Regions from separate parts of the Homo sapiens genome. Here all the other regions are linked to region 3. The links come from fine-mapping of genetic effects on plasma protein levels. A gene starts in region 3. Each other region holds a variant in brackets. All regions are shown on one strand. Distances are from middle to middle.

The links. A credible set is the group of variants that fine-mapping cannot tell apart. PIP is the chance, under the fine-mapping model, that this variant and not a neighbour inherited with it causes the effect. Protein levels are from antibody-based Olink assays in UK Biobank. Linkage for the fine-mapping came from a reference panel and not from the study's own genotypes, which makes the PIPs less certain.
Region 1: its variant is the best candidate, but not a certain one, in a credible set for the plasma level of the RABEPK protein (UK Biobank, PIP 0.85).
Region 2: its variant is the best candidate, but not a certain one, in a credible set for the plasma level of the RABEPK protein (UK Biobank, PIP 0.67).

Annotation. Positions count from the first base shown.
Region 1 is chr9:125,243,068-125,245,825 of GRCh38, forward strand. All of the region lies in intron 1 of HSPA5-DT (HSPA5 divergent transcript), which reads left to right. Among named protein-coding and RNA genes, the nearest start is that of HSPA5-DT, 2.8 kb to the left of the region's middle. The variant C/G (reference allele first, on the strand shown) is at 1,540.
Region 2 is chr9:124,901,643-124,904,400 of GRCh38, forward strand. The region is part of intron 12 of GOLGA1 (golgin A1); the gene reads right to left. Among named protein-coding and RNA genes, the nearest start is that of GOLGA1, 38 kb to the right of the region's middle. RefSeq lists an enhancer at 1,718-2,218. The variant C/T (reference allele first, on the strand shown) is at 1,241.
Region 3 is chr9:125,199,320-125,202,077 of GRCh38, forward strand. RABEPK (Rab9 effector protein with kelch motifs) reads left to right here and starts at 1,223. Exons shown (of 8, transcript NM_005833.4): 1 at 1,223-1,587. LOC105376271 (a long non-coding RNA gene) reads right to left here and starts at 1,077. Exons shown (of 2, transcript NR_135145.1): 1 at 907-1,077; 2 at 214-336. RefSeq lists a silencer at 1,101-1,150.

The DNA.
Region 1 (2,758 bases), 44 kb after region 3:
CAAAAATTAGCTGGGCGTGGTGGTGCATGCCTGTAGTCCCAGCTACTCGGGAGGCTGAGGCAGGAGAATCGCTTGAACCCGGGAGGTGGAGGTTGCAGTGAGCCGAGATCACGTCACTACACTCCAGCCTGGGCAGCAGAGCTAGACTCCATCTCAAAAAAAAAAAAAAAATTCATTTGTTTGAGGAATGTTTTTGGAGGACCTACTATGGAAAGGGCAAAGCTCTGATATGAAATATTTGAGATTCATGGGTATACTGTGTCCAGATACCACTAAAACATCCTAAACACACTTTATTAAGATGTTGAGCCTGTGACTCAGTACTCAAGAATTTTCTTTTTCCTTAGTGCTTCTCAAAGGTTAGACTGGTGACTCAAGAGTTGACTCTGTTCACTACAGAGGTTGCATCATGCATCTCTTTCAGCAGGGCTTGTAATCCTGCGGCAACATTGACCCTTCTTTGGCTTGCATCAGTCCAGCATTAAGATAGAAATCATCATTTGACCACATTACAGCTTCTTTCATTTCAATCAAATGTTTTTATAGTGCAGTCCATTTCCATTAAAAAAAAAAACTCTCCATTTCAGCCTTATCCTTGATTAACAGAGTAACGTTTTGTAACTCTCCTTTTTGTAAAATTTAGAAAAGCGATACATGGCTAACTTCCAAAGGGAATTGAATATATTGTGGTTTCATCTTTTTAAAACCAGACATTTTACATACATTTTCTAGTATATTCCAAAGCACAGTCACTTACGAATAGGAAAGTACATGGTCAAAACTAGCTTGCTGAACATTAAATGCCAAAAATAATATCCAGGTCAAGTTATCAATACTTAACTGTTAGACACTGTGCTAAAGACGTACGTGCATTATCTCTTTTTATCTTTAAGAAAGCAGTTTTTTGTAATCCCAGTATTTTGGGAGGCCGAGGTGGGCGGATCACGAGGTCAAGAGATCGAGACCATCCCGGCCAACATGGTGCCCAGTCTCTACTAAAAATACAAAAATCAGTTGGGTGTAGTGGCGCGCGCCTATAGTCCCAGCTACTGCTACTCAGAGGATGAGGCAGGAAAATCGCTTGAACCTGGGAGGCGGAGGTTCAGTGAGCTGAGATCGCACCACTGCACTCCAGCCTGGCCACAGAACGAGACTCTGTCTCAAAACAAAAACAAAAACAAAAACAAAAAGAAACAAACAAAAAAGCATTTTTTTCTTACCCCTATTTTAGAGTGAAGGAATCTGAAGCCCCAAGAGGTAAAGAAACTTGCCCAGGAGATTGCACACCTAAGATAATGAGCCAGTATTTGAGCCTTGGCAGTTTGATTTTTAACCTCTATAGGTTGTCATCTTGAGCTTCAGATTTATAAGACTTAATTTTGGGTTTCGGCATGGTGGCTCAGATGTGTAATCCCAGCACTTTGGGAGGCCAAGGTGGGTGAATCACTTGAGGTCAGGAGTTCGAGACCAGCCTGGCCAACAGGGCAAAACTCCATCTCTAATAAAAATACAAAATTTGCTGGGCATGGTAGCACACGC[C/G]TGTAATCCCAGCTACTCGAGAGGCTGAGGCATGAGAACCACTCGAACCTGGGAGGCGAAAGTCACAGTGAGCCAAGATCGCACCACTGCACTCCAGCCTGGGCAACAGGGTGAGACTGTCTAAAAAGAAAAAAAAAAAACCTTACATTTTGTTTTAGGATATAGAGTAGTCACATATTTTGGGTTTTAAATTTAAAGTTTATAATTTTCATAGATATGGGGTCTAGCTACATTAACCAGGTTGGTCTCAAACTCCTGGCCTCAAGCAATCCTCCCACTTCAGCCTTCCAAAGTGTGGGAATTACAGGAATGAGCCACCACATCCAGCTCCAGTTACACATTTTGTAAATATTTTGATAACAGATGATATGCAAATATAAATTTTTATCCAGAAATTTAAACCAGCCCATTTCACTTGTGCTCCTATGGGTAAGAAAATTGCTTTCCAGGCTGGGCCTGGTGGCTCACACCTGTAATCCCAGCACTATGGGAGGCCGAGGCAGGCGGATAACCTGAGGTCGGGAGTTCGAGACCAGCCTGGTCAAAATGGAAAACCCCGTCTCTACTAAAAATACAAAATTAGCCCAGCGTGGTGGCTCATGCCTGTAATCCCAGCTACTCGAGAGGCTGAGGCAGGAGAATCACTTGAACCCGGGAGGCGGAGGTTGAGGTGAGCTGAGATCATGCCATTGCACTGCAGCCTGGGCAACAAGAGCGAAACTCTCTCTCAAAAAAAAAAAAAATTGCTTTCCATTTCCTACCTGATCTCAGAAAGCTAATTAAGCAGAGGTAAGACTTATTAGGATTGGATGTCATTTAGCTCTTAAATCTTCTTTTGTGGCCATGCGCGGTGGCTCACGCCTGTAATCCCAGCACTTTGGGAGGCCCAGGCGGGTGGATCACGAGATCAGGAGATCGAGACCATCCTGGCTAACACGGTGAAACCCCGTCTCTACTAAAAATACAAAAAATTAGCCGGGCACGGTGGCGGGCGCATGTAGTCCCAGCTACTCAGGAGGCTGAGGCAGGAGAATGGTGTGAACCCAGGAGGTGGAGCTTGCAGTGAGCTGAGATTGCGCCACTGCACTCTAGCCTGGGCGACAGAGCGAAACTCTGCCTCAAAAATAAAAAGTAAAAAATAAATCTTCCTTTGTGAAAGAGGACTAATAATAAATGACAAGCATCCAGCAGGAAGAAAAAGGAAAGGACCTATGTAATT
Region 2 (2,758 bases), 300 kb before region 3:
GCCAGGATGGTCTCGATCTGCTGACCTCGTGATCCGCCCACCTCGGCCTCCCAAAGTGCTGCAATTACAGGCATGAGCCACCGCACCTGGTTGCTAATTTTTGTATTTTTAATAGAGACGGGGTTTCACCATGTTGGCCAGGACACACAGTATTTTTTTAACTGGTTTGAATCACTTCCTTAGGACAGATTCCTTGAAGTGGAATTACTGTTCACAATACAAATTCAGGATTTACTCATTCCACAAATACTGAGCAAGACTGACTCCATACCAGGAACTGCACCTGGGCACGAGGCCAGTGCCGTGAGTGGGACAGATGTAGACTGGCCCTCAGGGACTCACTGTCTAGTACTGAGTTGCACTTGGCTCTCCAAGATGGCAGTTTTACCAGATTCAAGCTACATCTATGAATTTCTCTTAGAAAGCCTTCTTATTTACTGAATAAGGTCTGGCCTTGGGGAGCTTTATTATTATTATTATTATTTTTGAGATGGAGTCTCGCTCTGTCGCCCAGGCTGGAGTGCAGTGGCATGATCTCGGCTCACTGCAAGCTCCACCTCCCGGGTTCACGCCATTCTCCTGCCTCAGCCTCCTGAGTAGCTGGGACTACAGGCAACTGCCACCATACCCAGCTAATTTTTTCTATTTTTTAGTAGAGACGGGGTTTCACTGTGTTAGCCAGGATGGTCTCGATCTCCTGACCTCATGATCCGCCTGCCTTGGCCTCCCAAAGTGCTGGGATTACAGGTGTGATTCACCGCGCCCAGCTGGGGAGCTTTATTATTAAACATAAGCACAAGGAAGGCTGTATGCAGCTTGGTGAAGGAGAGGTAGACACACAAGGAGAGGATTTTTTTTCTTTTTGAGACAGTCTTGCTCTGTCGCCCAGGCTTGAGTGCAGTGGCGCGATCTCGGCTCACTGAAAGCTCCGCCGCCTCCTGGGTTCACGCCATTTTCCTGCCTCAGCCTCCTGAGTAGCTGGGACTACAGGCGCCTGCCACCATGCCCAGCTAATTTTTTGTATTTTTAGTAGAGACAGGGTTTCACCGTGTTAGCCAGGATGGTCTCGATCTCCTGACCTTGTGATCCGCCCGCCTCAGCCTCCCAAAGTGCTGGGATTACAGGCATGAGCCACCGTGTCCAGCCAAGGAGAGGACGTTTTTAAGGCCTAGGCTCCTCACATACATTCACATCTTAGATTTAACCGAAACAATCCCATGAGAAAGGGGCTACTAGTCCA[C/T]GGAGAAGAACAGGATTGTTACTAGCTCATGACTGCAAATTTTATTGGTGGTAGCGCCAAAACTAAGACGTTGTTTTACACTCCTGAGATCAGAAAATACCTAAGTCTCAATTTAGAAGCCAAGTTCAAGATAGATTCAGATCTTCAAGAGATTAAAGAAAAAGTTACCATATCACCCTGCAATTTTATTCCTAGGTATACACTGAAGAGAAATGAAAACACTAAGTCCACACAAAAACCTTGTACAGGAACGTTCATGGTAGCATTATTCACAACAGCCAAAAGATAGAAACAACGCAAATGTCCATCAAAAGCTGGGTGTGGGTTGGGTGCGGTGGCTTATGCCTGTAATCCCAGCATTTTGGAAGGCCAAGACGGGTGGATCACTTGAGGCCAGGAGTTCGAGACCAGCCTGGCCAACATGGCAAAACCCTATCTCTGCTAAAAATACAAGGCGTGGTGGTCTATATGTGTAGTCCCAGCTACTCAGAAGGCTTAGGCACAAAAACTGCTTAAACCTGCGGGGTGGGGGTTGCAGTGAGCCAAGATCGCACCACTGCACTCCAGCCTGGGCAACAGAGCGAGATTTTGTCTAAAAAAAAAAAAGCTATGCCTTTGCCTCCCTAAGTACTGGGCTTACAGAACGGGGGCTCGTGCCTGCAAGCCAAGCACTTAGGGAAACAAAGGTATAGCTTGAGCCCAGGAATTGGAGACCTGCCTGGGCAACATAGGGAGACCCTGTTCTCCACAAAAAGGGGAGAAAAAGACCAAAAAAAAAAAAAAAAAAAAAGACAAATGGAATTCAAGTGTTCATCAATGAATGAATGGAGAAACAAAATGTGGTCTATACATATAATGGAATATTATTCAGTCTTAAAAAGGAATAGGCCAGGCACAGTGGCTCATACCTGTAATCCCAGCACTTTGGGAGGCCGAGGTGGGCGGGTCACAAGGTCAGGAGATTGAGACCATCTTGGTCAACATGGTGAAACCCCATCTCTACTAAAATGCAAAAAATTAGCCAGGCGTGGTGGAGCGTGCCTGTAGGCGCGCGCCTGTAGTCCCAGCTACTCGGGAGGCTGAGGTAGGGGAATTGCTTGAACCTAGGAAGCGGAGGTTGCAGTGAGCCGAGATCGTGCCACTGCACTCCAGCCTGATGACGGAGCAAGACTCCATCTCAAAAAAATTCTAAAAAAAAAAAAAATTCTGTTAAAAAAAAAAAAGGAATGAAAGTCTGACATATGCTACAACATAGATGAACACTGAAGATGTATATACTAAGTCAAATAAGCCAGACACAAAAGGACAAACATTGTATGATTCCACCAACAGGAGGTATCTAGAGTGTCCAAACTCAAAGAGACAGAAAATAGAATGGTGGTTCCCAGACTGGGGTAGGAGGAATTGGGGAGTTACTGTTTAATAAGTATAGAGTTTCTGTTTGGGAAGATGAAAAAGTTTTGGAGATGGATGGTGGTGATGGTTGTACGACAATGTACACTGATCAAAAAGGATATT
Region 3 (2,758 bases):
AGTTGGGGGGGGGGGCGGGGGCGTTCACCATGTAGGCCAGGCTGGTCTCGAACTCCTGACCTCGTGATCCGCCCGCCTCGGCCTCCCAAAGTGCTGGACTTATAGGCGTGAGCCACCGCGCCCAGCCTATGATAGAAATCTTATTAGCTCCATGGTTACAAACAGACAACCCTGAGGCCTGGAGGAAAGTAACTTCAGAACAGATACTCTCCTGGCTGAACTTTATATTTATTGCACTCTTGGCAGTCGTCCCTAGTTGTCTTTTTCTTTGATCTCTCTCTAGTTAAGACTTGCTCCTGGAGGCAAAGCGTGGTGGTGTCTGGCTCAGCATAGCACCTGCCATAATTACAAATGGCAATTATGGAATGAATCAGCTGTTTAAAGCACCAAATCTTGAGCTGGCCCGAAGACTGCGCAGGAGGATTGCATGCTCAACTCTCCCCTTTAGAAACTGTTAACAATCGTTGTGGCCGGGCGCGGTGGCTCACGCCTGTAATCCCAGCACTTTGGGAGGCCGAGGCGGGTGGATCATGAGGTCAGGAGATCGAGACCATCCTGGCTAACAAGGTGAAACCCCGTCTCTACTAAAAATACAAAAAAAATTAGCCGGGCGCGGTGGCGGGCGCCTGTAGTCCCAGCTACTCGGGAGGCTGAGGCAGGAGAATGGCGTGAACCCGGGAAGCGGAGCTTGCAGTGAGCCGAGATTGCGCCACTGCAGTCCGCAGTCCCGCCTGGGCGACAGAGCGAGACTCCGTCTCAAAAAAAAAAAAAAAAAACAATCGTTGTAACTGGAAATGTAACTGTTATACCCTCCCCCCCTTTTATTTATTTATTTTTTTGAGAGGGAGTTTTTGCGCTGTTGCCCAAGCTGGAGTGTGGTGGCGCCCAGCCCTGTTAGCCCCTTACAGAGTAGATCAGCTGCCGCAGGCATCTGAGTTCCCCAAACGGACGCCCGAACCCGGCATTGCGCAAATCGTTTCCAAGTAGCCCCGGCTTATTTATCCCGTCCGGGAGGGAGGGACCCAGGGAAGGCCCACCCCACTTGGTTCCCGAGAAATGCAGAGCCTGGCGTCCACTCCCGGTCTGGGGGACCCCTCCACCGCCAGCCCAGGAAGTCAGCGCCGGGCCCTCGGGGCGGAGCAGGGAAGAGGGAGCGGTTGGCCCGGACGCTCTTCCGGGTCCTGGGAGGAGGGCCCGGACCTAAGCCCCGCCCCTCCGGGGTGGAGTCACGGCTCGCGACTGGCCTAAGTCGCCGCAGGTATTGCAGTCCGGGGCTGGAGGGTAGGGGCGAGGGTCCCCGGATACCGGGTCTATCACGGTCTCGGGCAGGGAGTCTGAATCTTTTAGGGGAGTGGGCCCAAGCCGGGTGCAAAGAACGGGGAAGGGCCTTCCCTGGCTCCGTCCCGGCCACTTTGACCGAATCAGCCTGTTCTTTCCCGACCCCGTCTCCTATCCCCTAGAACTGCCACGTGGGGATGAGATTTGCTGGGCTGGTAGCGGCGGCTGCTGCGGGAGGTCCCGCCCACGTGAAGCCAGCCTAACTGAGCTCTGGACTTTGGGGACAGCTGTCAGTGGCCTAGGCCGCAGGTGAGATTTATCCATTCATCTCTCAATCTATTTTCTTTCTTCATTCACTAGCCACTCCCCCACTTCTACTCCATGCCAGGTCCATTGGTAGGTTCTCGGAATGGATCTGACAGGCCCAGCCCTCTAGGAACTTAGTCTAGTGGAATTTAATCTAGAATCTAGTCTAGAAGCCTTAAATAGATAAACATTCCAAATGATTCCTGCAATGGTGATGGCTAATACCTTCAGAGCCCAGTGGGTGGAAGAAGGAAGTAACTTGGATGTGGGTGGAAGAGAAAAGGGCAAATCAGGGAAGGTTTCACCAGGGAAGGGACTTTTGAACTGGGCTTTGAAGGTTAACTAGGAGTTTGCAAATTTCCCAGAAGGGAAGCGACATTCCAAATAGGGGAAGCAGAACAGGCTGCAAAATTATGAAAAGGCCTGCCATATTACAAGAACAGCAAAAAAACCAATAATGCAAGAGATTGTGGAGGTGAGTTCACGGGAAAAAAGCTCAACAGCAGAAGGCCTTACTTTCTATGCTATGTTGAGGCCAAGATTTATCCCAGAGCTCAGTATTTCTCAGCTTCTTTAAATATTTTGTCCTTTGAGCGGAGAGCAGTGGCTCACACCTGTAATCCCAGCTTTTTAGGAGGCTGAGGTGGAAGAATTGCCTGAGGCTAGGAGTTCGAGACCAGCCTGGACAACAAAGCGAAACCTCCATTTCTATTTTTTTTTCTTTTTTTGAGGAGGAGTCTTGCTCTGTCGCCAGGCTGGAGTGCAAGTGGCGCAATTTCGGCTCACTGCAACCTCCGCCTCTTGGGTTCAAGCAATTCTCACGCCTCAGCCTCCTGAGTAGCTGGGACTACAGGCGTGGGCCACAACGCCCAGCTAATTTTTTTTGTATTTTTAGTAAAGACAGGGTTTCACCATGTTGGCCAGGATGGTATCGATCTGACCTCATGATCCGCCTGCCTCGGCCTCCCAAAGTGCTGGGATTACAGGCGTGAGCCACTGCTCCCAGCCCCGTTTCTATTTTTAATTAAAAAATAAATAAATGGCCGGGCTCAGTGGCTCACGCCTGTAATCCCAGCACTTTGGGAGGCCGAGGCGAGCCAAGTTCAAGACCAGCCTGGCGAACATAGTGAAACCCCATCCCTACGAAAAATACAAAAAAAATTAGCCAGGTGTG